Regions from separate parts of the Homo sapiens genome. Here all the other regions are linked to region 4. The links come from fine-mapping of genetic effects on gene expression. A gene starts in region 4. Each other region holds a variant in brackets. All regions are shown on one strand. Distances are from middle to middle. Region 1 overlaps SEPTIN11 (septin 11). Region 2 overlaps LOC124900719 (a long non-coding RNA gene). Region 3 overlaps SEPTIN11 (septin 11). Region 4 holds the start of SEPTIN11 (septin 11).

The links.
Region 1: its variant is fine-mapped to the expression of SEPTIN11 in hippocampus (GTEx, PIP above 0.99).
Region 2: its variant is fine-mapped to the expression of SEPTIN11 in lung (TOPMed, PIP above 0.99).
Region 3: its variant is fine-mapped to the expression of SEPTIN11 in whole blood (TOPMed, PIP above 0.99).

Annotation. Positions count from the first base shown.
Region 1 is chr4:77,015,081-77,022,528 of GRCh38, forward strand. SEPTIN11 (septin 11) reads left to right here. Exons shown (of 10, transcript NM_018243.4): 6 at 4,085-4,181; 7 at 5,422-5,590. It overlaps LOC105377291 (a long non-coding RNA gene), which reads right to left. Exons shown (of 2, transcript XR_001741734.2): 1 at 7,179-7,448; 2 at 1-5,696. Among named protein-coding and RNA genes, the nearest start is that of CCNI, 57 kb to the right of the region's middle. RefSeq lists an enhancer at 195-727. The variant G/A (reference allele first, on the strand shown) is at 3,491.
Region 2 is chr4:76,807,855-76,815,302 of GRCh38, forward strand. LOC124900719 (a long non-coding RNA gene) reads right to left here. Exons shown (of 2, transcript XR_007058150.1): 2 at 4,074-4,375. Among named protein-coding and RNA genes, the nearest start is that of SHROOM3-AS1, 9.1 kb to the left of the region's middle. The variant C/T (reference allele first, on the strand shown) is at 4,287.
Region 3 is chr4:76,986,143-76,993,590 of GRCh38, forward strand. All of the region lies in intron 1 of SEPTIN11 (septin 11), which reads left to right. Among named protein-coding and RNA genes, the nearest start is that of SEPTIN11, 40 kb to the left of the region's middle. The variant G/A (reference allele first, on the strand shown) is at 3,854.
Region 4 is chr4:76,946,226-76,953,673 of GRCh38, forward strand. SEPTIN11 (septin 11) reads left to right here and starts at 3,527. Exons shown (of 10, transcript NM_018243.4): 1 at 3,527-3,705. The coding sequence starts at 3,679. It overlaps LOC105377294 (a long non-coding RNA gene), which reads right to left and starts at 3,340. Exons shown (of 3, transcript XR_001741739.2): 1 at 2,738-3,340. RefSeq lists an enhancer at 2,312-2,391 and silencers at 3,302-3,481, 3,512-3,821.

The sequences.
Region 1 (7,448 bases), 69 kb after region 4:
GTAGAGTGGCTGGAGCACTGGACTGACTAGGAACCTGATGACTTCAGCTGTAGTCCAGCTTTGCCACCACTTCAAGTCATTTAACCAGTCTGCTCCTCCGTTTCTCCATCTGTCAAATGGGAGCTTTAGACAAGATGATCTCAAATTTCCTTCCCACTCTAACAGTTACGATTTCTACAGCAAATCTTGTGAGAAGGAAATGCCAGCCCAGTACCATTTCATAAAAAGCAGCTCAAAGGAAATAGATCTGTGCTTGTTTCTACCAATCTTGGCAGAAATACATTAGCTTGTCCCAATTTTGCTTTGGTGATTGGATCCTGCCCTTCCCTCCTTTCTATTTTCCCTATACTTTTCTAATCATTAGGTAAACTGGCAGTTGAGGATACAATTTCCACATCACAGAGAGGAACTAGTCAGGTGATAAATGATTAAAGTGACAGTGGTTCCCTGTGTGATTGTGATGTAATCCCTCCTGGTGAGTCTCCATCCTGCCGGTTGATGCTCAAGTCTGTTTCACTACTCTTTTGTGTGTCTCACAGCCCATAGCTCAGCTGTGAGCTGCAATGACTCTGCACATCTTTTTTTCCCTTTGGGAATGCATAACATCCATGAAAGCCACATGCTTTGCATATAGTGGAGGCCCAGTGATGGTTGTTGGAATTCAAAGTAGTAAAGGCTCTAGAATTGTTGGAAGAATCTGGAAAGCAGATTCTTCCCAGGAAATAGGCATGATGGGGTGTGAAAGGAAGGTTGCCACAAGGGAAAATGGCTAGACTTGTGCAAAAGAATGAATGGACAAAAGATCACCAAGGGGTTTTGGTCCCATTACGAAGTGAGTGTTTAACTAGTAGAGCCACTGAGATGGAAGATACACCTTACTTCTTGGGAAGTAGTGAGTTCCCATCGCCAGTGGTTTGTAGATAACAGACCCTGTTTCAGTCCACTTGGAAGAGATACTGTAGCAGGAATTCTTAAGCAGGATTGAACGTATAATAAGCAAGATCTCTTCCACCTCTAAAATTCTCTGGTTGTGGGTATTGAGAGCTACATAATAATAATAGCACCTGACATTTTTCACATTTCTGGAGCATTTACTATGCACCAGGAACTGTTCAAGACTTTCCATTTAATCCTCACAACAGTTGCATAGGTAGGTGCTGTTATTATTCCTCCCTCATATATGAGGAGACTGCAGCACAGCACCTAAGATTGCATGGCTGTGGGTAGTGGAGGTAGAATTGGAACCCAGGCTTTGGCTGTCAGGCTACACTCTCACCCTGTGTACTGCCGCCCGAGCAGAGCAGTGTACCATCAGCCTCGGCATCCATGGATTTCACCAACCATGGACCAAAGATATTTGGAAAAAAAAAATGCAACAATAAAAACAATAATACAAAATATATATATATATGTGTATATATATAGCATATATATATATTTTGTATTATTGTTTTTATAATATATATAGCATATATATTATATATGCTAAAATATATATATAGCATATATATACACACACATATATATATATACACATATATATATATATACACATATATATATATATATATATATACACATATATATATATATATGGCCAGGCACAGTGGCTCATACCTGTAATCCCAGCACTTTGGAAGGCCGAGGAGGGAGGATCACTTGAGGCCAGGGGCTCAAGACCAGCCTGGTCAACATAGCAAGAAAATAAAAAATAAATTCTACAAAAAAAATTTTTTTAAATAGAGTATAATAACTATTTATATAGTGTTTACATTGTCTTAGATATTATAAGTAATTTAGAGATGATTTAAAGTATACAGGAGGATGTGCATAGGTTATTTGTAAATACTATACCATTTTATATCAGAGATTTGAGCACCTGCAGATTTCAGTGTCCATGGACAGTCCTGGAACCGGTACCCTGTGGATACTGCAGGAGGTCTGTACTTTTTTATAGGAAGGTCAAAATCTCAAACTGAGATGGCACTCCTTTATTCTGCTGTAGAACTGTAATTTGGGATGTCAGTGTGGGATTCAGGAAGTATCATGAATGACTGCTATGTAATTTTTCTTTATATTCCTATCCTTCTAGATAATTTTTCATTATTTTCTAGTCATGGAACTATATCTTTGTTAAACTTATTGGAAATAAAATACCCAAGAATTTTTGCTCTCTTTCTCTCTTTATCAGATTAATAGAACTGAATCTCTGACATTCCAAATTAATCCTGCTCTTTAAAGAAATTTTCTTTTAGGCTCTTCATTACAAACTATTCTTGCTGATCAAATTCCACGTAATGTCTGAGGAAAACAGATTCCACTGGCAGTTGCTTTTGTTACATTTGAGTGGAGAAATTTCCTTGGTCATTACACCAAAATATTGACCAGAAAGGTCCTGTTGCTCCTCAACTTCAGGGGAAACAATAGGGTTCAGGTCTGAAACTCAGACTTGTTTGAGAAAGATAATGTGCTTTCTTTCCTTCTTAGGGTGTGAGATGAACTAGAACATTTCAATATCTTGAGCGTCCAACAAAATGCTACTTGGGCAATCTGAGCCAATGATTATGCCAAGTTCTTTGTAGGAGAGGAATTGGCTTGAAAACTTTATCTTCTTTCTCAGTGTATCTATGGTGGAAGAACACTGGATCAAGGAACTCTAAATAATAATTCTTGGAGCAGCTATTTCAAATCTTATTCTTACATGCTAATAGAAAAAAGATAGGATTATTATTTCCTCCCTCACTCAGAATGCAGTGATAACTACCAAATAAACCAATGTGAAAGAGTCAGTTGTCTTGGACACCATCTCTACTTCAGATAAATCTGGGTGCATAGCTTGAGCCAGTAATTTGGGCTAAAGTGTGTTTCGGACTTAGAAATTTGTGCAATAGTCAACTGTCTAAAGCAGTGTTGTTCAAATAGAACTATAATGTGAGACACACAAGTATTTTAAAATTTTCTAGTAGCTACCTTAAAAAAGTAAAAAGAAATGTGAAATTAATTTTAAGGACTTAACCCAATATGTTGCAAAATATAATTTCAACATGTATTCAATATAAAAATTATTAGATATTTTAGGCTGGGCACGGTGACTCACGCCAGCACTTTCGGAGTAATCCCAGCACTTTCGGAGGCCAAGGCGGGCGGATCACAAGGTCAGGAGATCGAGACCATCCTGGCTAACACGGTGAAACCCCGTTTCTACTAAAAATACAAAAATTAGCTGGGCATGGTGGCCGGTGCCTGTAGTCCCAGCTATTTGGGACGCTGAGGCAGGAGAATGGCGTGAACCCGGAGGGCAGAGCTTGCAGTGAGCCGAGATCGCGCCACTGCACTCCAGCCTGGGCAACAGAGCGAGACTCCATCTCAAAAAAAAAAAAAAAGATATTTTAATGTAGGTCTTTGAGATCCAGTGTATATTTTACAATGACAGCATATCTCATCGTGGACTGAATTTTCACCAAAAATATTTTATCTGTATTTACATTTT[G/A]TAAAATTCACAGCTAAAAAGTTAAATTTACATACAGGTTTCTCCTAACATACCTTAAAGATTTTCAATATGAAATAAGTGCCAAAAAGATACTTTATCTTTAATCTTTGTGTCTACCTTGCCATCTACCTTGGTCTTTTTCAGAAGATTTGAGTTTGAAGCAAAGTGAAATGCAGTTTTGCCAAAACAATAAAGTTGCATTTAATTGAAAAATATTTTACGTTGCTTCCATTTTAAATTTAGATGTAAACTAATTAAAAGTTAGATATTCAATTTCTTGTTCCTACAAGCTGTATTTCAGGTGCTCAACAGTCACATATAGTTAGTGGCTACTGCATCGGCTAGCACAAGTCTTAAGCTTACTTTATAGTTGCAAAGACTCATACACTTTTCCCTTGAATCTAGCTCGTGTCTCATACTCAGTGTTTGGTTATAAGGGGGGTGGGATACGTGACATCCACCCACCAAACTGCAGCCTGCTTTTCCCTTGTCACCAAGTAGAGGCCTGCAGAAGGAGGGAGAAGATAGAGACTGGTGGAAACCAGTCTGTCAGAGCAGGGGAAAGTAACTATTCTCTGTCCTTTTGCTTGGCAGGTCCATCTCCCATTTGCAGTGGTTGGCAGCACCGAAGAGGTGAAGATTGGCAACAAGATGGCAAAGGCCAGGCAGTACCCCTGGGGTGTGGTGCAGGGTATGTGCACAGCATGGGAGATGGAGTCTTCATATTTAGCCCCTATGTGAATGGCCGTGTTTGTTCATTTTCCGTCTTGTTTAGGGAGGCCCTCAACAGTGGGCTGGCAGTGGGAGGGAGTGGTGGGGCTCCACATGTGACAATCGTGGAGGTGAGGAAGAAAGAAAAAGTAATCAGCTAGGTAGACAATGGAGAGACATGGCTGCCAAGCCCTTGAGGTAACCCCTCAAGGATGCTGGGTTGTGTAGGGAATTAATATAAAGTCCTGATTGAAAAATAGTTCTTCCCTAGGAGTTGGAGCTCGTTTCATCAGCCAAGTATTAAAAAGCAGCAAAAAGTTTCTTGCAAACAAGAGGGTACTTTTTTCTCCATCAACTATGCAAAAAATGTCTTCTAATAAAATGTTATCTTAGTAAATCTGAGACTTAGGAGAATATTTGATCTATATTTGGCACTGTGGGACATGGCCACAGTCTAACCTGAAAGCTTGTCACGTGTGTCACTTTGAATGACAAGGACTCTATGACCTACTCTTATGTTCTGAAGGAGGACATCCAGTGCTATGGATTAAGCAGGATGGCTAAAGAAAGTTCTTCGCTGGTTTAAGATGTATCAGACCTCCTTTTCCTCTGTTTTGAATAAAGGCAATAAAGCTGTGAGAAGAAACAGTACCTTTGAGATCCCTGGGAAAAATACAATTTTTCTTACTCTTACTAATTTCTCTACAATAAGAAAACTCCTTTCTTCCTAGTGTTGTTGATAAAATTAAATGAAGTGGTATGTAAAAGTGGCCCTGCACAGTTATAGACAGCATGGAGTGGTACAAATACATCTGGCTTTGGGCCAGATGTTCTGGCATTTGAATCTAGACCCTGCTACCTCTCTTTGGGAGGTCAGCTTGCTCACCAAGCTCCTGCGTCTGCAAAGCAAGAGTCATGACATCTAGTTGGCAGAGTTATTATGAAGGGTAAAGACAATATTTGTTTTCAAGCTCCTCCCTCTGTGCTCTGTGCTGAGTAGGCACTCAGCAGTCAGCGTTGTCATCAGTATTATGGTCAATGTTGTCAGAAATCTTGTCTTCGTCAGGAATGTAAGGTGAATCCAGTAAAGGATCTTCAGATGGTCTTGAGACCCCAGAGATTTCAGGAGTGATGGTAATAACATCTTGGAAGCATCACTGCAGATATTTCAGTGACATCATTGCTAATCCCACTTCCGCCATTTCCCCCCTCTCTTGTAGTTGAGAATGAAAATCATTGCGATTTTGTGAAACTTCGAGAGATGCTGATCCGCGTGAACATGGAGGACTTGCGAGAGCAGACTCACACCCGCCACTATGAATTGTACCGACGCTGTAAGCTTGAAGAGATGGGGTTCAAGGACACTGACCCTGACAGCAAACCCTTCAGGTATGAAGGCATCTAGCAATCAGGTGTCTCCCAGACAGTGGCGAGAGTGGCATGGTGGTACATCACAGAAATGCTTGCTGGATTGAGATGGTGATGATGGAAGGATCTGGTGGGTGAAGATTAATACATATGTTGTCAGGCATTGTGATAATTGCTTTATTTGCATTATCTCAACTAACTTACCTAGTTGATGTCATTATTATCCACATTTTACAGATGAGGAAACAAAGGCACTGAAAGTGTAAACAAACTGCCCAAGGTCCTCCAAGTAGTAAACAATGGTGTGGTGTTGAGCTCTTGCCATCTGGGTCCTGAGCCCAGGTTTCTGCCAGTTCTCTTGCAGAGGTGCAGAGCCTGGTCGATATATTTACAAAGGTGCGGCTGCTGATTACAGTTTGCCCCATTCATTTTTGCCAAACACCTTTAACTTCCGGAGGCTCTTCCTTTGTCAAGCACTTTTACTATTAGCTTTCAGTGGTTCGGTAAAATTCTAACAACAAAGAATCAGGAGGAAAGGAGAATAGCTTTTAGGAGATCTATGTATTTTCTTATATCACTGACGGGTGGAGACGCAAAATGTGAAGGGGAGAAATGGATGTAGAATTAATATCCTAGCCGAAGCCCAGACCCCGTCAGAATCCAGTGGTAGGGATAGGGCTGGCAAGGCTGGGGTGCTGTTGCCCACACCGTAGTGAGTCATGGGGTGGTTCTGGGTAAAGTTGTGGGGTGAGGCTGCCAGGCCAGGTTCACCACCTCCTGGTCGAGGAGAGGATTGTCCAGATGGTGCCCAAGCAGTTTTCTTTCTTTTTTTTTGTTTGAGACGGAGCCTTGCTCTGTCACCAGGCTGGAGTGCCTCGGCCTCCCAAAGTGCTGGGATTACAGGCGTGAGCCACCGCGCCTGGCCCCCAAGCTGTTTCTTAATGGGGATTTGAATTCAGGTGGTGTGAGGTGTGTCTGGGCTCTGTGCCTTTACAAACTGAGGGCCATAGTTCCTTGGGGAAAAAAAACCTGTCTTTCTCCTCTTTGGCCTACAACACACTCTGATGTCTACAAGCTGGCTGACAATAGAACCGGAGGCAGCCTGTGCACAGCAGATTCTGTCCCCGTGGGTCTGTAGGAGGGAGTTTATTTTCTTGCAATTGCTTTAGAGATAGTTTAGGAATGCCTGGGCTTGTCGCCTGGCACTGTGCTGCTGAGGAGTTCCATGAGCATGTGTGTATGCAGTGAGAACAAATGCAGAACCCAGACAAGGGGCATACCAAGAAGTTAACTTCTAGCCAAGATTGCATCATTCACTTCTGCCCTGACGGCTTGCAAAACTGACCATCTCCAACCATGTGAAAGTCATGTTCTGAGGCGAGGTGTAGGACACCTTTTTGTGTACACAGGTTTAGCTAATTGAACCTTGAAATGCATTTACCAGAAAATAATCCTTACAAAATCAAGTCCACTTTATGGTTACTAAACCTGATGAAATGGTTTCTGTGTGGGAAAGGCCGTCTTCAGTATTACATAAAATATTTGTTTTCATGCAAAGAGATATGGAACAAAAGGAACTGCCATAAAATTGAATTCATTTTCCCCTCACCTTCATTCAAATCCAGACAGTGTTGAAGAGCACTGGGCTAGGAGTCAGGAGTTTGGGTTCAGTTCTTGGTCCTGCTACGCTACAAGTTCTTAACCCATCTGGGCCTGAGTTTCTTCATCTGTGAAATGAGGAGCTGATCCAGATCAGGGAATAATTAGATCCAGTAAAAAAAAATTTTTTTCCATACTGGGTTAGACAGTAAATATTTTAGGTTCTGCAGGCCAAACGGTCTCTGTCACAACTATTCAGTTCTGCCCTTGTCGTCCGAAA
Region 2 (7,448 bases), 140 kb before region 4:
GAAGGTAGTGGTATATTGTTATATTAATGGCTCCAGTGAATCACATTTCCTGGTATCGACACCCTTCTTTGGTCCTCTGCTATATTAACTCTGAGCCATTGGGAAATCAGCAAATGTGACACGGCAGACTTTGCAGAATTCCCAATGATCAAAGCCAAGTTCTCCGTGATTTTTCTGGACTTTCCCTTATCATCAAAGGATGGCTGCTGCTGATCCAAACAGCTATAGGCATCACATCTGCATTCAAAGTAGGTAGAAAAGGAGCAGTGTAGGCAATGCCAACCAGAGTGTCTTTTCTCTCTTCTCTTCTCTTTTTTCTTTTGACAGAGTTTTACTCTGTTACCCAGGCTGAAGTGCAACGAAGCAATCATAGCTCATTGCAATTTCAAACTCCTGGGCTCAAGTGATCCTCCTGTCTCAGCTTCCCAAGTAGCCAGAAGTATGAGGTGTGTACCACGCACCTGGCTAATTTTTTTTGTATTTATAAAGACGGGGGACTCACTATGTTGCACAAGCTGGTCTCAAACTCCTGGCCTTAAGTGATCCTCCTCCTTCTGCCTCCCAAAGCACTGGGATTACCGGTGTGAGCTACCATGCCCAGCCCCAGAGCTGCTTTTATTAGAAAAGCAAATTTTTTTCCAGCAACATTCCAGCAGACTTTCATTTATATCTCATTGATCTTCATCATTTGGCCATTGTTAGCTGCAAGGGAGTCTGGAAAATGGAATATTAACTTTTCCAAGCCTCTGTAGTAAAACATGACAAGGAAATGGGAGTTTAGGAAAGGATATTGGGTTGACTAAACAGCAGTGCCTGCTGTGGAACTTTTAATCATGCATCCCATACATAGCCACGCTCCTATTAATACCACTGTGTTAGGCCATTCTTGCATTGCTAGAAAGGAATACCTGAGGCTGGGTAATTTATAAAGAAAAGAGGTGTAATTGGCTCAATTTCTGCAGGCTGTACGAGCATGGCACCAGCATCTGCTCAGCTTCGGGGGAGGCCTCAGGGAGCATTTACTCATGGGAGAAGGTGAAGCAGGAATGGGTGTGTCACATGGTGAGAGTGGGAGTGTGATGGGGGGAGGTGCCACACTTTTACATAACCAGATCTCCTGAGAACTCACTATTGCAAGGACAAGCCATGCAGGATCTACCTTCATGACCCAAACACCTCCCATCAGGCCCCACATCTAACACTGGGGATTGCATTTCAACATGAGATTTGGGGGGACAAATATCCAAACTATGTCAATCACAAATGTATACAACATGGAGACTGGAAGCTGCTAGCCAATTTCCAAGCTTTATCTTACAATTCAAAGGGAAGAAATTATCTCCAAGCCATTGATTTATTCAACAAATATTTACTGAGGATAATTCTACAAGTTAGACATTGAGCTAGGCTTTGAAATACCATCCCTGAGATTCAGGAATGGACCTACTGTTCTGCAGGACGAAGAATTCAGCCTCCCTGTAGGCCTGGAGAGAAGGGATAAATATTGCCAACAGCCTCTCATTTCACTGTAACTTCCGTTTTCACATCTGTTTCATTTATCTTTTCTTTTTTTTTTTTTTTCTTTTTTTGAGTCAGTCTTGCTCTGTCATCCAGGCTGGAGTGCAGTGGTATGATCTCGACTCACTGCAACTTCCGCCTCCTGGGTTCAAGCTATTCTCATGCCTCAGCCTCCTGAGTAGCTGGGATTATAGGTGTGCGCCACCATGCCCGGCTATTTTTCGTATTTTTAGTAGAGACAGGGTTTCGCCATGTTGGCCAGGGTGGGTCTCGAACTCCTGACCTCAAGTGATCCACCCACCTCCGCTTCCCAAAGTGCTGGGATTACAGGTGTGAGCCAGGGTGCCTGGCCTTCATCTATTTCCTCTTTTAACTTCCATTTCCATTCCCATTTTCCTTGTATCAGTTAGCTTTTGATGCAATAACTAACCATCCTGAAACTTTGTAGCTTAAAACAACAGTCACGTATTGTTACTCACAAGTCTGCAGGTCAAGTGGCTGGTTCTTCTGATCTGGGCCAGGCCTGGCTGATCCCAGCTGGGTTTGCTCATGTGTTTGCAATTCATCAGTGGGTCAGCTGAGGGCACTTAGCCTAGGATGGCCTCACTCACATGTCTGGTGGTTGGTGCTGGCTGTCAGCTAGGGCAGTGGGGTAACAGGGCCACGTGTCACTCGTTCTCCAGCAGGCTTGCTGAGGCTTATAAATAAGGTGGTTGTTACGGGATTCTCAAGAGTAGGAAGAGTAGGCAAGCCCTAATGTGCTAGGACTTTTCAAGTTTCTGCTTGTGTCATATTTGCTACCTGTTCCATTGATCAAAGTAAGTCACAAGCTCGGCCCAGATTCCAGAGATCGAGAAATAAAGTCCATCTCATGATAGGTGGAGCTGCAATCACACTGCAAGGGCAAGAGAGCAGGGAAGGGAAGAATTTGTGCTCATTTTGTTAACTCCCACACTTCTTTTCTTCCACTACATAGGACACCAAAAATTCGTTAAGCTGGTTAATGATCTTTGAGGCCAGGTGCAATTCACTTCTATCAAACATTGGTTATAGTGCCTCTGCACTATTAGGGGAAAAAAATAATAAAAGGCCTGGCGTGGTGGCTCACGCCTTTAATCCCAGCACTTTGGGAGGCTAAGGTGGACAGATTGCTTGAGCTCAGGAGTTCAAGACCAGCCTGGGCAACATGGCAAAACCCCGACTCTACAAAAAATACAAAAATTATCCAGCTGTGGTGGCATGTACCTATAGTCCCAGCTACTTGGGAGGCTGAGGTGGGAGGATTGCTTGAGCTCAGGAGGTGAAGGTTGCAGTGAGCTGAGATCATGCTACTGAACTCCACAACAGAATGAGACCTTGTCTCAAAACAAAAAACAAAAAACAAAGCCTGAATTATCCACCACCAACTCCTAAGCCACTGGCTGTCAACATTTATGAACTAAGACCCATTAGCAAGAAATTTATTTTACAGTATCCAGAATATACATGTACACATTTTTTTTTTAGAAAAATAAGTTATGGGCCAGTTGCAGTGGCTTACGTCTGTAATCCCTGTAATCCCAGCACTTTGGGAGGCTGAGGCGGGCAGGTCCCTTGAGGTCAGGAGTTTGAGACCAGCCTGACATGGTGAAACCCCATCTCTACTAAAAATACAAAAATTAGCTGGGCATGGTGGTGCATGCTTGTAATGCCAGCTACTTGAGAGGCTGAGGCAGGAGAATGGCTTGAACCTGGGAGAGAGAGGTTGCAGTGATCCAAGATGGTGCCACCGCACTCCAGCCTGGTGACAGAGCGGTACTCCATCTCGAAAAAAAAAGAAAAGTAAGTTGTGACCCACTAAATTAATTCACCACCCACTAATGGGTTATGATCTGTAGTTTGAAAAGCATTTTCGTAAGCTAAGGCCAGGAACACCACTTTTCTAGGAAAAGAGAACAGCAGGTTCCCTTTGAGGGGTTCAATAAAGAGCCTGAGTTTGGAGCTTGCAGGATCAAAAGAAGACCAGCATGTGGGGAGTCTACTGAATGGGAGATGAGGCGGGAAATATAGACAAGGGTCTGCCAGGAAGGTCTGCAGGTTGTGGCGGGGCATTCGGGACTCACTCTTCAAAAAAAATAAAAATAAAAAATAAAGGGTCTTGCTATGTTGCCCAGGCTGGTCTTAAACTCCTAGGCTCAAGGGAGGGATTCTCCTCCTTCAGCATCCTGAGTAGCTCGGATCAGGAGCATGCTGCTCTGCCTGGCTTCCATTATTCTAATGGAAGTTCCCAGTGGTTTTACGCAGAGAAGTGACATGATATAATCTATTTTCCAAAATAGTTTCTCCTGACCTCATGCACAGCCCTAAAATGATTGCAGAATGACTTAATTTTCTCTAAATTTAAAACAAGCCCGGAATGGTTTTAAGACCCTCCGTAGAGAATTCTTTCACTCTCCCCCACATTCATTCAATGAAACTCATTTCCTGGTTCCCTTCCCTCCACGAGGGCGCCTACCCTCTGCTGAGCAATCTGGAGACCAGAATCCTGCAGAAATAAGAGTGCTGAAGTTTTAAAATTCCTCTTTCTATCAAGTCCAGTACTTTTATTATCCTTCTGTCACTAAGAATCCACATATCTGCTGGCCACACTGCCCTCCTGGCTGGAGTCATGCATACCCATGGACTTTTTTTTTTTCTGATTTGCAACATTGACACTTGGAAGGACATCTGTAAGTTTTGGCAGCTGGCTCCTCACAGCTTGGAAGCAGGTCTCCTCTCCCAGTGGGGGT[C/T]TCCATCTCTGCTGGGACATCTGCAGTGCCTGCTGTTGGGAGCTGCCACACATGGTCTGAGTCGGGGGTCACACAGACTGAAAAGGAAGCTGAGAGAGGGATTGCTTAGCAGGAGACAAGCAGATTTCCCAGGGCCTGGGCCTCCTTGGCTGGTCCCCAGGAGACGAGTTCCAGCTGCTTTTCTTTTTTGCTTCTTCTTCCTCCCCCCACCCCCCTTTCCGGTTTGGGCCCCTTTTCCCTCCCGCCTTCGGCCGACCCGCAGTCCAGACAATATTTCGGGTGGAAAACATCACTGTCAAAAAAGAAGAATCCAGAGGATGAGAAGCTGAAAAGCTGAGGGGGAGCTCCCCTCTTCTGGAAGCCTGTTCCATGGATCTGTCACCTCTTGTCTGGGAAAGATGATGGGGTGCAGCAAACACACTCAGATGTGTGTTCCTGCAACCTGTTAGCCCCTCACTTCCCTGTGCCCCCTCTCCACTTCCCCTTCCCACGCTAATGACTTGCCCCAAGTCTGTGGTGAGCATCCCAACAGATTTATTTTCTTTGCAGTTTCCAAAATAGATGCTTTCAAAGCTTAGAGTTAAAGATACTGGTAGGAAAAGGGATATTGAAGGGAGAGGAGGAAGAGGAAAGAAAGAAGTGGCATTGGAAAGTAGAGCAGGCCAGGCACAGTGGCTCATAGCTGCAATCCCTGCACTTTGAGAGGCCAAGGTGGGTGGATCACTTGAGACCAGGAGTTTGCAACCAGCCTGGGCAACATCATGAGGCCCTGTCTCTACAAAAAAAAATGTTTTTTTAATTAGTTGGGCATAGTGGCAGGCCTGTAGACCCAGCTACTCATGAGGCTGCTGTGGGAGGATCACTTGAACCCACGAGGTTGAGGCTCCAGTGAGCCGTGAGCCATGATTGTGCCACTGCACTTCAGCCTAGGTGACAGAGCTAGACCCTGTCCCAAAAAAACAAAACAAAAAACAACAACAACAAAGACAAGAAAAGTGGAGAAGCTAGTAAGTCAATAAATTGTAATGGTTAAAGACAGGAGCTCCAGATTCACTCAAACCTGGTTTATAATCCTATAACTGCGGCTTATTGACTTGTGAATTAAGGTTGTCTGTTTTAACTTCTCTGAGGCTCTGTTTGCTCATCTGTAAAATGGGCATAATTGTATCTGCTTATCTAAGTTAAAAACTAAGTGAGACTCTTCTTTTCTCTTTTCTTTCTTTTCTTTTTGTTTTTCTTTTTCGAGAAAGAGTCTCCCTCTGTTGCCCAGGCTGGAGTGCAGTAGTGTGATCTCGGCTCAGTGCAACCTCCGCTTCTGGGTTCAAGCTATTCTCCTGCATCAGCCTCCTGAGTAGCTGGGACTACAGGCATGCACCACTACACTTGGCTAATTTTTGTATTTTTAGTAGACAGGGGGTTTCACCATGTTGGCCAGGCTGGACTCGAACTCCTGGCCTCAAGTGATCCACCCCTGTTGGCCTCCCAAAGTGCATTAAACGACACTCTTAATGCAATTATTATCTACTCGAGTAAGTGCTTGATAAACGGTAGCTCTTTATAATGAATATTATTCATGTAAAGGGAACATTGGAATAGCTGTCGGATACTTTCAAAGAAACAAAACCAGGAAACTAGCTATTGAGGAGCTTTGGAAACACAAGCTTTCAGCTGGATGCTGTATGTCTTTTTTTTTTTTTTTTTTTTAACAGACTGAGTCTTACTATGTTGCCCAGGCTCGTCTCAAACTCCTCCTGGCCTAAAATAATCCTCCAAAGTGATGGGATTACAGCATGAGCCAGCCTATTTATGTCTCTTAGGTAATTTTTTTAAATGTTTATGGGTACATAGGTATATATATTTATGGGATACATGAGATATTTTGATCTAGGCATACACTGTATAACAATCACATCAGGGTAAATGGGGTAACCATCACCCCAAGCATATATCATTGCTTTGTGTTACAAACATTCCAATTATACTCTTATAGTTATTTTTAAGTATGCAATAAATTATGGTTTACGGTAATTACCCCATTTTGCTATCAAATACTAGATTTTATTCATGCTTTCAAACTGCATTTGTGTACCCATTAACCATCCCCTCTTCCCCGCTTACATCTGACCACTCATCCCAGCCTCTGGTAACTAACCTTCTACTCTCTATTGCCTTGAGTTCAGTTGTTTTAATTTTTAGCTCCCACAAACAAGTAAGAACATACGAAGTTTGTCTTTCCTGTGCCTGGTTTATTTTACTTAATATAATGACCATCCATGTTGCTACAAATGATAGGACCTTGTTTTTTAATGGCTAAATAGTACTCTAATGTGTATATGTACCACATTTCTTTATCCATTTGTCCATTGATGGACACTTAGGTTGCTTCCACATCTTGACCACTGTGAGTGGTGCTGGCGGTAAGCATGGGAGTGCAGATGTCCCTTTGATATCCTGATTTCCTTTATTTTGGATATATACCTAGCAGTGGAATTGCTGGATCATAGTGTAGTTCTATTTTAGTTTTTTAAGGAACCTTTGACTTGTTCTCCACAGCAATTATACTAATTTACATTGCCACCAACAGTGCATGAGGGTTCCTTTTTCTCCACATCCTCGCCAGCATCTGTTATTGCCCGTCTTTTGGATATAAGCCATTCTAACTAGGGTGAGATGATATCTCATTGTAGTTTTGATTTCCATTTCTTTGATGACTGATGATGTTGAGCAACTTTTCATATACCTGTTTGTCATTTGTATGTCTTCTTTTGAGAAATATCTATTCACATCTTTTGTCCATTTTAAAAATTAGATTATTAGTTTTTTTTCCTATAGAGCTGTTTGAGTTTCATATATAGTCTGGTTAATAAGTCCTTGTCAGAGGGATAGTTTGCAAATATTTTCTCCTATTGTGTGGATTGTCTCTTCACTTTGTTTATTATTTCCTTTGCTGTGCAGAAGCTTTTTAACTCGATATATTCCCATTTGTCCATTTTTGCCTTGGTGGCCTGTGCTTTTTATTACTCAAGATATCTTCGCTCAGACCAATTTCCTGGAGAGTTTCCCCAATGTTTTCTTTTAGTAGTTTCATAGATTCAGGTATTAGATTTAAGTCTTTAATCCATTTTTATTTGATTTTTGTATATGGTGAGAGATAGGGGTCTA
Region 3 (7,448 bases), 40 kb after region 4:
GCTTTTTTTCTCCTGCAAGAGGGTGGAGGTCTATAACTGTGCAGATTTTATCAGATGCATGCTAATACATGTTATTCTGGGGGACTCTCTTATACCTTGAAGTAGACATTGCTGCTATTTGGCGTGAAAAAAATAGGAGGACTTATTTGAATTGAGAATGGGGATAGGCTGAGTTCCACCGAGATGTTGGCTTAGAGATGCCTGGGCCATGCTGTACAGTAGGAAGCCCAGCAGAGGAGATTGGGCTGTGTGGGTCATGACAAAGGGAGTTGTTAGCTTATGGTTGGCTATTAAAGTCATGGGCAAGGATGGGCAAGAAAAGTGTGTAAAATGAGCTGACAAAAGATAAATATGTTAATTAATTCTTTACAACAGCCCTGTGAGAGAATGTGTCTTAAAGCTGACAAAACTGAGGCAAAGTTAAATACCCTAGGTCACACAGCTAAACTATGAAAGAGGTGCTCTTGTCTTGACTTCACATGTTGGGCACCTTCCACTACACTTTTCCACTTTTCCGATTCCTCCTGTCACTTTCAACATGACTTGGTTCTACTATTAGAAAAATTAAGTTCTCCTATTTTACTCTGTTAACCTACCTATTAGCTACAATAAATATTGTGGGCTTACCTCCTCAAAAAAGATCTTTATTTAGTATTATTGTTATTGATGTTCCTGGATTTTAAAAATCTTATATATTTTCTATTATAAAACTACAGCTTTTTTTTCTTTTGTAATAATTCAAATGTTACAGAAACAAAACAATTAAAAGGTAACATTTCCCGAAAATCTTACCAGCCCCAAAGAAAACCCCCACACGGCATTAATTTTGTAAGGATCTGGAAAAGCAAAATGTGTTCCTCTACTGGGAGTCTTCTGGAGAAAGTTACTTGGAGATAGCACTTGGAATTGGGACAATTATTCAGTATTAATCAAGTGCTTTTTTGGTTATATGATATGTTTTCCAGAGTGGCTCCCTGGGTTTGGCATTCTGAGCTTATCTACCTGGCTTTGTGACCTAGGGGCTGGCTCCTGGATGCTCCTCCTTAGTCTCAGCTTCCAGCTGGGCCGCACTGAGAAGTTGTTCTTTCCTTGTATTACCATATGGTTTTTCTCTTAACAGTTCCTCACTGCCGCCTGGCGCTCTCTGTTCTGCTGCTTGTGTGAGACAATTTCCTTGGGGGTTTTCTTGGCTCTAGGCATGGGATTTCATGGTATAGATGACAAGCAGAGTAGCAAATGTTGTTCAAATCATCTTTAAAGAATGCAATTCTCATTGGTAATGAGATGGTCCAGACATTTTATATTATGAAAGTTACCCCAGCAATGCTTAGCTTTGAAAGCATCCCGATGCTGGCTTCATAGCTGTGGTTTGGGTCAAAACTTTGCATTCCAGTGTTTTCCCTTTTGCATGAGAACTAAGGGCGTTTCCCATCTTCCCATTAACCTTCTTTTTTTAAAAGAGAATGTGAAACCAATTCAATACTTTCTAGAATGCAGTCAGATAAGAGTGTGTATCTACAGAAATGATTAATCAGGGTACTTAAATAAAACTTACTTTGCGGACAGTTCGTGAGGCCAGAATTTCTCCAGATACTGGGAGGTGGCTGGTGGTCAGTCAAAGATTTTGTGTGCGAGACAGCATGTTCTTTTCTTTACCTCTCTTCAGCTCAGAGGCGTCTGTACTACTGAAATAGGACCTCAGAAAAAGACATGACCTAAGATGAAGGGGTATGTACTTCTTCTCTTTTCCAAGTGGGTATTCTGTAAGGAGAAAAGACAGAGCTCAAAGGAGTGTACTGTACATGTCTCCTCTGCCCTCTGCTGCCCCATGGTTTCATCTCAGCTCTCTTTAAAATTGGACATCTGTTCCCTTGAAACCTGAGTTCTGATATTTCTACCTTCTCCCATCAGGTACTGCTGCTCAGAAAGACTATTTGTTTTCATCTGAATATGTGAAACCTGCACATCAGCTGTACACAGGGGCCGCCTATTAAATTAATATTCAACAGTGCTTTGGACTAATACATATTTTTACATACTATAGGCTGGTGAATTCACTCAAAGAATGAGTAGTTAATCACATGAGTTATAAGGCTACACAGCATCCTGTCCTTTGGATAGCTTTATGGTTATGTATTTGTGACTATTTGATTGACATCTGTGTGCCCCATTACCCTGTACGCTCCATGAGTTGGGGAGGCTTTGTTTTTTCATCATGGTATCCTTAGCATTTAACACAGTGTTCTACCCACACTGGTACTCGATGAATATTTGCTGAATGAATGAAAGCATGAATAAAGATTTGCTTTTCTTTTTGAGAACAGATAACTAACTTATACAGAGAAGTCATTTCCTAGGTTTTTTGTTTGTTTTTTTATTTTGGAGATAAAGTATATCACTCTGTCACCCAGGCTGGAGTACAGTGGCACAATCCTGGCTCATTGCAGCCTCTAACTCCTGAGCTTAAGCAAGATCCTCCTGCGTCAGCCTCCCAAGTAGCTGGGATTATAGGCATGAGCCATTGCGCCCAGCCCTAGGTTTTGTTTTGAGGATATAAATCCACTTTTCAAAAATCTCGTGGATGACTGGAGATGTAGCCAAACAAAAAGAAATTGCTTTTAAGCAGGGCATTTGTAAACAGTGGGTACATAACTTTCTTAGCTAATTCATATGTATTGTAGTTAAGCAGAAATTAAAAGTTGAGGTGGAAAACACAGAGGTTATGCACACAGATTTCCATTTGGTTTGGAGTTTCCCAGCATAACTGATAGAAACTCCCTTTCATGGGTCAATTAAAACTTGAGCCATCTTGATCTGGCCAGAGCAAATATGCTTCCAGGAATTTTTCACCCTGTGTTGGCTTTCCTTAAGCAAAATGACGGAATTGGATTTATGCATCTCTAACATCCAGATTAAGAAGCCTTAGAATTAGAAAAAACAAAGAACCAGAGACTTTGTTTAGAGGTAATTTGATTAAATCTCCTCACTTTACAGAGGAGGAAACATAAGCCCGAGGATTAAGTGACTTGGATCAGTATACTTTATTTATCCATAATCTGAGGCGTTGAGAAAAATGTAATCACCATGTCTTGTTAATAAAAATCTCCAGCTCTCCACCTGAATACATAAATGTTATCTCTTAAATTTAAAAAAAAATAAATTTTAAAGAGAAAAATCTTTCTAAACTTAAATTGTAATACCTGATTTTAAAGGTAAAAATTAAATATTGCTTTCGAATGGAAACGTAATTTTAATTTGTTTGGATTAAACAATTCAAATATCACCTTGGTAACATGCTGTCTTGCTTCCGCCTGCTGATAAGGATCAGAGGCTACGGCCTATCTAACCACATCTACCGAAACACTTCATTTTTAAAAGTAAAGAAAAGGGATATCACTTCAGTTTAAGTATGGTGAATAAAATCCATCTGGGCACACCGAGCTTGTTAATTTCAGTAGACCCAGGGCTGGATTAAAATACAGTCATGTACTGCTTTACAAACTCTCAGTCAACAATGGACCGCATATACAACCGTGGTTCTGTAAGATTATAAAACTGCACTTTTACTGTACCATTTCTATGTTTAGATATACAAATATTTACCATTGTGTTACAGTTGCCTACAGCATTCAGTACAGTAATATTCTGTACAGGTTTATAGCCAAGGAGCAATAGGCTATCCCATATATCCTAAGTGTCTAGTAGGCTATACCATCTAGGTTTGTGTAAGTGTATCTGGAGTTTGTTCCTGCCGGTTGGTTTGTGGTCTTGCTGACTTCAAGAATGAAGCCGCAGACCTTCATGGTGAGTGTTGCAGCTCTTAAAGGTGGCACGGACCCAAAGAGTGCGCAGC[G/A]GCAAGATTTATTGTGAAGAGCAAAAGAACAAAGCTTCCACAGCGTGGAAGGGGACCTGAGCGGGTTGCCGCTGCTGGCTTGGGTGGCCAGCTTTTATTCCCTTATTTGTCCCTGCCATGTTCTGTTTCTGTTGTATCAGAGTGCCCTTTTTTCAATCCTCCCCGCGATTGGCTACTTTTAGACTCCTCCTGATTGGTGCGTTTTACAGAGTGCTGATTGGTGCATTTTACAATCCTTTTGCTACAGAGTACTGATTGGTGTGTTTTTACAGAGCACTGATTGGTGCATTTTATAATCCTCTTGCTAGCTACAGAGTGCTGATTGGTGTGTTTTACAATCCTCTTGTAAGAAAAGTTCTCCAAGTCTCCACTCGACCCAGGAAGGCCAGCTGGCTTCACGTCTCACAAGTACACTCTAGGATGGAGTCCCCAATCCCCAGGCTGCCAACTGAGACCAGTCCGTGGCCTGTCCGGAACTGGGCTGGCCAGCAGGAGGCGAGTGATGGGCTAGTCAGCATTACCGCCTGAGTTCTGCCTCCTTCAGATCAGCTTCAGGCATTAGATTATCATAGGAGCCTGAGCCCTGTTGTGAACTGTGCATGGGAGAGATCTAGGTTGTGCGTTCCTTATGAGAATCTAATGCTTAAAGATCTGAGGTAGAGCGGTTTCATCCCCAAACCAACCCTGTCCGTGGAAAAATGGTCTTCCACAAACTGGTCCCTGGTGCCACAACGGTTGGGGACCACTGCTCTAGAATGTTCACACAAGAACAAAATCACCTACTGGCATGTTTCTCAGAATGTTTCCTCATCACAAAGTGGTGCATGACTGCAGAAGCAAAAGTGATGGGGAATCCAGAATGCTTCCCAGCTGGGGAGGATGTGGATTCTGCTAACTGCTGATTCTGCAAACAGGAATGTGATTTTGTGGCTTTTCCTCCAGCTTTGTAAATGAGTTTTCTCTTTAGGAATGGATTTTCTTCAGGCTAGAATCATCATTCTCGTTTTTTATTTCTTTCTGTTCACTTTATTTTTATTGTGATTTTACCTTATTCATATGTCCGAGAGCCCTGCTGGTCAGCAGCTTCTCCTGGAATGCCTAGCAGCTGTAATAGAACTTCTGATTAATTTCAGATTTTTAAATGATAGTTGCCTCTTCCTCCCAACTACTGTAGGTAAAGGAAGTCCAAGTTTCAGAAGACCTGTTAAGTGCTAGGCACTCTCATCCATACCTCTTTATCTCCTCCCAACAACCCTGCCAAGGAGATATGTATGAGAGAGCCTAGCACCTCTTCCTGTTTTTACTGAGGGCAGAATAGAGACTAAAGCAAGTAGAAAGCAAAGCTGGGATTCAAACCCATGTCTGTCTGACTCTAAGCCTTTTGCTGCCCTTCTCTGGTGAAGCAAGATTTGGAATTGTGGAACATATTTTACAGCAGCGCTCAGAATGTAGGTGGTGGCACACATTCTTACATAATTTGTTTTATAATTATCTCAATAATGAAGTCAGCTGGGAATTTTCTGAAAAACTACCAGTTATACACTTCAGGTATACATTCATAAGAAAGTGACCTTTTGGGCATAGAAACATTTATCCAGAAGGGTTCTGCAAGCTGGGCTTTTGTTTCACTGATAGATTTGGGGAACTTTAGCTTTCCTAAAAGGTACCCCCTGAATTTCCCTAGACAAAAACTACTTCTCCTCCATGCCTTCCCGTAGTTGACGCCATGGTATTGATGACTTTTATCCTTCATAGTCCTACATTTACATCTGTCCTAGCTCTACTACTACATTGTAAAACCTCTTAAGGGTCGGAACTGCAGTGTTCTTCAATGAATTATAAAAATAACTTATTTTAGCTTTCTTAGTGCTTTGAGCAGTGGGTATTTTTGAATGAACAAATAAATAATTGTATCTAAGAGGATATGTTCTAAAAAGAGAAAAGTGAAATTGTCAAGTGAAAAACAAGTTTATTTTATACCATAAAGGTTAGTCATAATCCATTTCAAGATGGAGTGGGCTATAGAAATTACCTAATTACAAATCCTTACTAGGTAGATTAGCAAATGCAGGGCTAAATCAATTAAGGTCTTATAGTTACTTACTTAGTGGTTCTGTGTTGGCACTTTCTTTTCAAAAATGGTTAAAACTAAGCATTATATTATAGGTTTCATGTGCCATCACTACAAAAATCATATTTGGTCTTGGCATTGCCAGGATCAGCGAAAATATACTTGGAGCTACTTTGCCAGTTCTAATTCTCAATTTCCACCTCTTAAGGTTGCCAGAGAATCATGGTTTCAGAGTATTTTTTTCCTTCTATTTTAATGTATTGGATTTTTATAACAGCTGAAATAATTATGCTGTCTGGGGCTACCTGGGAACTTAATATTCAGTTCATGAGATAAATTTCAGTTTCATGAGATAGCAATGACTATGTTCGACAACTCTGGAACCTGACTTCCTGGGTTCCAATTTCAGCACCTTGACTTTACTAGTTGGGAAACCTTGGGCAAGTTACTAAACGGTGCCTCTGTTTTCTCATCTGTAAATTGAGTTTGGGTAACAATGTAACTAATTTATAGAATTATTAAGAGAGAGAAATTAGGGCTTTTCTGGAGCATTGGAAGGGATAAATGTTAGCTGTTATTATCATGATGGAATTCCAAATAGCTTGAGCAGCTTTTCAATCAGTATTTTCCTTTTATTGGTCAGAAGAATGTTTGGTGAAATTTTCCCCAAGATTTCATAATAAAGACAATGATGGAGGTATAATTTTATTGGGATCTGGAAGATTTGGATATGTAAACACTGGCTGTAAGGGCCTTTCACATAGAGGAAATAATGTGAGTAAATTCTGATGGGAAGAAACCTGGGTTTGTCCCAAGAAGAGTGGTCATTTAATTTAACTGCAGTGTAAGGTGCTCCCTGGGGAGAAGTGGGAGGTTCAGTAGGAATGGAGACTTGAGGTTAGCCCATGGGGCCCTGAAATGACAGGCCAAGGAGTTTGGATTGGGGACCTTGAGTACCGAGATCCCCTTGATGGCAAGGTGGAGGGAGGAAGTATTAGAGAGGGTGAGATCAAGTCAGGGAGGCCAGTTGGGAGGCTGTTGAATTAGTAGGAATAGAAATGTGGAGGATGTAGTATTGATAAGACTTCAGAGTTGATGGTGGGAGGGGAGCTGGTCTCAAGCATGGCTAAGTACTGTTAACAGAAATAGGGAACTCTGGAGAAGGGGCGAGTTTGGGATAGAGGAATATGATTTCAGTTTCATGAACATCAAGTTTGAAGTACAGATGGGACAACCCAAGAGAAGTGTTCCTCTGATAGAAATTCAGAACTGGATGCCAAGCAGAGTTCAATATTAGAGATAAATTCAGAGAGTCGTTTCCAGATGTGTTAGTGTTAACGACATGGAATATATGCAGTTCCCTGAAACTGGGCCTGGAGACTCAAAAAAGACCCCTCAATCCTTGGCTTGTGGTAGCTAAGGGAAGAGCTATAAAATGCTGGACTGGAGGGATGCGGTTCAGCTGCTGTGCTGGAGGCACTGGGTAAGGTGCTCAGAGCTGCCCTGTGCATGTCCTCCAGTGCC
Region 4 (7,448 bases):
CCAAGTTGAAACATTCATTGGAAAAGCTCTCCAAATAAATTGGGGTTCAATTAAAAAGGGAATAGACCCTAAATTACTAACAATGCCAAATATTCACTATAGCTGTTTTCTAAAATGCAAATTTTCTTTGCTTAAAGACCTCCTTGACTCTTCATTACCTTAGTATGGCAATAAAAATTATTCATTTCCTAGTCTTTACCCTCATCTCCAACTCAAAATTTATTGAATATACCAGACCATGTGACAGAAGCTAATAGACAAAAAAGCACTCTTACCTTGAGACATTCATAGTCTAGTGACAGAAGCGTGATAGTACGACCACTTCTTGATTGCTTAATATGTCTAAAGCAGAGTTTACTGGCAATAATAGCTGGGGTGGCCATAAGTCCTTGTTTTTCCTATTGTCCTGACATCATTACTATCAGCACAAACCCCCTTTTCCCAGCCTCAAAAGTTTCTCAGTTTGGACAGAAATTATAGGTCATTCTAATAATAATAATACAGTATTTTCTCAGTTAACTCTCAAAACAATTCTGTGAAGGAATGAGATGTTCATTCCTACTGGATAATGTGAGTAGAGTTTTATAAAAAGACTATCTGCAAAGGTATGTGCAAAATGAAGGGAAACCATAGGGGTTTACTCTGGGTCACCCTAGGGAGGGATACTGGCTGCTTCCTTTGGTTGAGGGAGGCAACCAGCCTGCAATGGTGCCATAGTAAGGGAGCCAGGGGGGAATAAATAACCATACTCCTTCCTCTTTGTTCCATCGCTGTTGCTTCCTAGTGCCTTCACTCAACTGGAAGCTAGAGGGAAAGAAAGTCTCTTGAGTTAAGGCTCCAAAGGACAGACAGCAGGTTGGAGAGTGGATCTGGCTAACAGAACACGTCCTCCCCCAGGACTCACTGTTACTACCCTATTTTACAATAGAAAAAAAAAAAATGAGATGAAAGTTTAACTTATTTGATATAACAAAGCTCATAAGTGATCATCTGTAGCTGAAGTGCCAGGTTCTCCCCACTCTGCCACTCTCTCGCTAAGGCTCCAACATTCTAGCAATGCCAGGATACCCACCCTCCCCATAGCATCTTCACATCCCAAATGAGATGTTGGAATATGTAACGTTAAGTTTTGCTGATTAGAATAAACTAACCTACCCACCAAGGTAGGGCATTCACATTCTTACAATCTAAGCAGATGAGTTTACAGCATATACATTCACAAAATAAATAAGTAAAAAAAAAAAATTTGATAAACAAATTCTACAGTCTGTTCTGGTCAAGATAACACAGTTCCTTTGCAACTGCCCTTACATCCGGTTGGTGGTGTGTGGAGCCCTCTTTTCCCAGGCCTTACATGAGGCCTCTGGTCCATGGGCAGTGCTGCTGCTGTCTGATCCTCCTTATGGAGAAAGGACAAAATGTCCATGTACCAGAGCTGCAGAAGAAAGTATTTGTCTTCCCCCTCCCTTTGCACAGCACCCATCTGTGTGTAATCTTATTATTATATATTTTTTGAGACAGGGTCTCACTGCGTCACCCAGACTGGAGTGTAGTGGCGCGATCTCGGCTCACTGCAACCTCCGCCTCCAGAGTTCAAGCGACTCTCCCACCTCAGCCTCTATAGTAGCTGGGACTACAGGCAAGCGCCACCATGCCTGGCTAATTTTTGCATTTTTTTAGAGCCAAGGTTTCACCATGTTGGCCCACCTCAGCCTCCCAAGGTGCTGGGATTACAGGCGTGAGCCACCGCGCCCGGCCCATTTATGTGTAATCTTAATTCAACACTTATTGAGCGCCTACTGTATGTTTGGCATAAAATGGTGGTCCCTAATTTCAAAAGATTTGGAGTCTAGAGGGCAGAAATTGAAGAGGTTGGTGCTCTGCACGTCTGAGTCCGCCCACAGACTGAATAAATAAGCTCTGCGTCGGCGCCCCTCACCTTTCTTTCATGGCCAGACTTTTCTCTGGCGGTTCCACAGCTGTCCTGACAGTGGAATTCAGACGGGGTGACCAAGCCCCTAGCCCACCTACCAGCGAAATCCAGCATCAGTTCCAGGGCAGCCGGACCCGCGCCCGGGGACGACTGACCCTTAGCCCAAGGCTGCGGGGGCGTCGGAGTCCTGAAGCGCAGGCGAGGCAGGGCCAGCGGGACAGGGAGACTCAAGGCCCCAGGGGATCTGGGCGTTTGAAGACTCAGGTCAGACTCTGAGGCGCCCGTCTAAAGAGACCGGTTGTCTTTTCCCTAATTCAGGAGGCCAGGCTGTCCCTTGGGGCGTCGTACCGAGGGCAGATCACAGCCCTTCCCTCCTCACCACACTCCCTGTGCTTCCACCCAGCTGGTTCCCCGCCCTGTCCATCGCTGTCCTCAATCGCTTGTTGTCGTGGGCCCCCCTCTCCGGCCCACGTGGGGCCGCAGGGATCCACAGCTCATCTGACACACCTCGCTGCCCTGCACGCACCGGGACCCCTCCATTCCGCCGGCCCCTCAGACACGCAGTAACACCCCAACATCTGCTGGGAAAAAAATCTTCCCCACGGCGGAGGAGTTCTCAGTCCCACGCGCCCAGAGTCGCACCCACTCGAGCCACCCGCCTGTTGCCGTCGCCACGCCCTCCAGCCGCAGCCCCAGCGCGCATTCCTACGGGTCGCCGGGTCTGTCGCCAGCGATCGAATGAAGTCGGCTGATCCCCCACGTGTGGCTGCTCCAGTGACACCCAGGGGAGGCCTCGGTCCTTACCCCTAGAGCAACCAATGGCTGCCTTAATTCTTCAGCGGGGGCGTTCTTTTTCTTCCTCCCAAGCAGGCGGCCGTTGGGTCGGCCGAAGGCAGCAGCGACTACTACGGCTCTTCCTCTCCAATGGGATCCCCTGTCTGCCCGCGCGCCACAGTGACAGCTTCCAGATGCCTGTCTTTAGTCTCCCTTCTCAAGGGAAGCGGTGGGCGACCGAGGTGCGGCCTGGAGGGCCCCCATGTGGGAAGGGAAGACTTGCGGAAGGGCAATTCTTCCAGTGCGGAGACGAGGAGGCCAGCCCAGCCGCACTTCGGTCGCCCACCGCTCCGCCTGGTGGTCCGCAGCCCCTTCCAGGCCGGCTTCTCCGGGTGGGGCGTGCTAGTCCGGGGCTAACTTTCCGCCACGTGCTGTCCCTGCGACCCGTCTCCCCCGGTCGCCCTTCCTTCTCCCGGCGGCCGCTGGAGCTGCCCGCTTCGTGGAGCCGGTGGCAGGCCCCGGGGCTGGGAGCTCGCGCCCAGGCTTTTACTCAGATTCCAGCACCTGATGGAGCAGGGGGTGGCGGCCAGCGCACAGGCTGTCGGCATCTCATGGCAGCGGAGACGGTCGTTTGGGGACGGAGGGGCGAGCCCCGCGGCCGGGGCCAGTGGAGCTGGGCTCGGAGCCCGCCCACCATCCTCCCGCCCACCACCGCGGCCGGGCGCGCAGGCTCACACCCCTTCCTGGGGAAGCGAATGGTCCCTTCCAGGCGGGTGGCCATGTTGCTCTAATAAAGCGGGAGGGGCGGCGGCGTGGGGGGAGCAGATGCCGCTGGCTGCCAGCGGGACGCCGGCGAGCAGAGCGCAGCCGCGAGGGAGGCGCGAGGGAGGCGAGCCGGAGCCCGAGCACTAGCAGCAGCCGGAGTCGGCGTAAAGCACCCGGGCGCAGCCGGAGCCGGTGCCGCAGCTGCGATGGCCGTGGCCGTGGGGAGACCGTCTGTGAGTGCTGGGGCCTCGCCTGCTGCTCCTCGGGCGCCGGGTGGTCTCTGCTCTGGGGCGGGTGCGGTGAGGACCACAGGGGAGCCGGGCGGGTGCTCGGCCCCGCGGCGGCGGCGACGGCTGTGGGTGTGTGCACGAATTTGGGCGCGCGTCTGGGGTCGGGGTTAGGAGCCCAGGGGCTCAGTTACGTGATGCAACAGTGGATCGCCTCGTCGCGCCCCTCTTCTGGGAATGCGAAAGAAAAAGGACCCCTCTCCTGTTCCCTTTAAAATAATTCTTTGAGGCGCGGCGTGTCTCAGCCGCCTCCCTCTGCCCGCGCACCTCTTCCCTCGTGACAGCCAGAAGGGCGCCGGGTTCGGGGCTTTCCTCCAGTCTCCCCCGCGCCGAGGGGGCGCTCAGGGCATGGGAATTGCGAGCTGAAGTGCTGCGTGTGGCACTGCTGTAGAAGCAGGTCAGAGGGGTGGGATTTCCGTGGTGGCCTCCCCAGCGCATTGTGAGATCCCGGACACCCTCGGGCATCCACCCGGCTGAGCGGGCCCTGCCCAGGATGTGGACAAAGCCCCAGATAACACACACAAAGTTTTCTGGAGGCTCCCTTGTGGTGTGGGTGGAAGGACTGAAATGTTCTGCGGCTGAAAGGCCGGGGGCGGCGGGCTGAGGAGGCTGGGACGCGAGGAAGAGGAAGGGCGGGCGGGTGCGTGAAGAATCGAGTGCCCCACGGCGGGAGGGAGGAGAGTAGGAGGGAGGAGATACCTTTGCCCCGAGTGTGTGGGCCAAGGCGCCGCGCCTACTGGGTTGCAAGACTCGGTCCGCGCCCCGGGGCCGGGCCGGAGGGGAGCGGGACTCCGAGGGTGCGGTTCAGTGGCCGCTCCGCATCCCCAAGTGAAAGGCGGAGGAAGGGGCGGCGGCGGCCTTTCCTTTTTTTTGAAAGGAGCGGAGCTGGGTGGGAAAGGCGGAGTCCTCCTGTTTTCCCTTTCCCCTTTTCATCGTCGATGTTCACAGTCCACTCGCCTTACTGGCTTTGGGGGCGCCTCGGGCGATGTCTTTCCCTGTCTATCACCTCCTCTTCCCTTTTTCTTCTTCCCTTTCCCACAGCTGTGCAGCTGCAGGTGGTGGCTCGGGAGATTTTGTAGTTACAGACGAAAGACTTACTGAGATACTGGAAGCTCGGAAATCCCAGAAATGCAAGGCTGTGCTCTCAGGCTCCCGGCTCTTCCCCCTCTCCCCGCCTAACTCCTCCCCAGATACGCGCGCCTTTTGCACCCTACCCCCTCGGGAGAAGTTCATGGGTCCCTTTGCGGATTCTAATTCGATTTGGTGGTTCGGCTGCCCGCGGTGCTTTCAAAGACGTTTTCTGCAGTCAGAAAACACAGCGGTCATATCGAATCATGACTGTCTTTTAGGCCTTTTCAACTCTACGATTTAATGACATGGCTCTTTTAAGAATTCTGGTCTTCTTTTGCACATAAATTGTGCTCTTGATAATTAGTGGTCACATGTAGGTTATTGTTACTGAGGGAATTTGCATAGTCTCTGGGCTAGTCGTTTTATTTTTGGTGAGAAAATTGAGGTCTATAGAGGTGAAATTTATCTGGTTAAATTACTCCTCCCCCTGCCCCCCATTATACTTATTAGCAGGCATAGATTCAGAGAACTAAAATAACAATATCTGCTTTAGATAAATTGGCAAACGTTTAGGATTGCAAATATTCAGTGGGGGTGTTTGGCTTTTTCAGTAACACGTATTATTGCTGGTGCATTCTTGAGGGATGGAGGAGGTGGAAGAAATAATTAGCTGCACATTTTCTATAAATTAGTTCATATATGTCAGTTAAATAGGAACAGTATGTGGATTTAAGGTTTAGTTGTGTGGCCGTAATCACATCCAACACCAAGTCGGCCAACCATATGTGAGCTTAATCCCACAGAATTCTTATGTTAGACCTCCCTCTTCAGATAATAGAGGAGATTTTTTTTAAGTATACGTGCACAGAGGAAGTGACTTCTTTCTGCGCACTCTGTTGTCACTGGAATTAAAATTAAATTACAATCTAAAGACAGAAGACTTTTCTTTTGGAAACCTAATGTACGAGTGATTAGGAATTGACTATAAAGTTAGAAAGTCTACAGAAAATATGTGATCACATTTCACAGATAATTGTTGAATCCTTTCACTTTGTTCATTGGGCTATTGTCTTAAGTGTGGTCTCTGCAGTTATGGCTTTAAAACAAAGTCAATGAATGGGGAAGACTCTTGAGACACAGCTCCATGGAATCTACACTGCACCTTTAAAGTTAAGAGTTCTCTGGCCCTCCCATTTCTTATCTAGTCTGTGATTTCACCAAAAGAAAGGAAGGGTGCGCTGAGGGAAAAGAACCACTCCGAAGTTGATTTATGTGTGAATGGAATTTCCCTAGGTATTTAATTAGATTTTTTAAAAAGTTATTTAGGACATATATCTCCTTTTGCGATAACTACCTCTCCCCGCCAGACTGAAGAAAAATGCAATCTGAATAACTTACCCTAAATTTTTGATATTCTTGAATGGGAACATCTGAGTGTGATATCCCAGGTAAATATGACATTTTAGTGGGCAAAAATGCTTACATGTCAAATGCACTATTTTCTATCTTATGAAATGGTTATATTCTGTTACAAACCATTCAAACCTCAAGGCTAAATTCAGGTAAGTTTCTTAAGTGGATTTGTTGTTGACTGCAAAACAAAGCTTCAATTTAGTGTGATACTGTTTATTTCAGTTTTAATTTTGATCCCTAGCTTCTCCATTTCCCCACTGATGGTTTTTGGGCTTAGCCCTAAGAAGACCCTGAAGCACATCTGCTGTTTGCCTAGTATAACTGATGATTAGCAAGAACATTTTACTCCCAAGGGATGTGTCTGCATTTTGGATGAATTAGCATTTTTGCGTCCAAATCCCGGGGCAGCTATTATCTTTATTTTAAACAGAACATGGCAATTTACTCTACTTGGGAATCAGGCTTTATGTAGCTGATGGCCTCTCCTAAGCTGTGGTGTTCATCAGTTTAAAAACTCTAGGAGTTGAAAGGAACGTTAGAGGTCATTTGGGTTAGCCTGCTCCCCAGTGCAGAAATATTTCTTACTTTATCCCTAACAAAAAATATGTGTTTAAACTTCACTGGTGGTGGAGATTTCCCTATGATATCCTTCAAGAAATGCACTTAATTGCTGTTTTATCTGTTGAGCTGAAGGAAATGGAAAACCAAGTTTCCATTTGCTCATTTAACACCATTTATTAAGCACCTGCTATGTGTCAGGAACTTGTTCTAGGTGTTGGGGATATAGCAGTGGACAAGTTTTCTTCTTACCAGGAGCTTTATTGTTTGAGAGATTTGGTGTATTAAAGTGACAGACTTCAGTGTAAATGTGTAAATCATTTAGGGAGAAAAGGAATTATATGCCTATTGCTGACTCAGCAAATATGATTCAGGTGAAGGATCATATCTGTCTGGGGATAATTATAGGCAATTCTTAAAGATGAGGGCAGGGAGTGTGGGAAGTGGAGGAGTACTGCCAATAAAATGTTACTTTCCCTTGTTATAAAATTGCCATTTTTGTGACTTGAAAATGTGGCCCCAGATGGATGGCTGTGGTCGGTGTGCCTGGAGAAACATGAATGGAGCCAAGAAAGGTCCAGGGGAGGGCCACCTAAACAATAAAGGGACTGTCATCTCAGGTCAGTTTTCAAAAATTAGAACTTTTT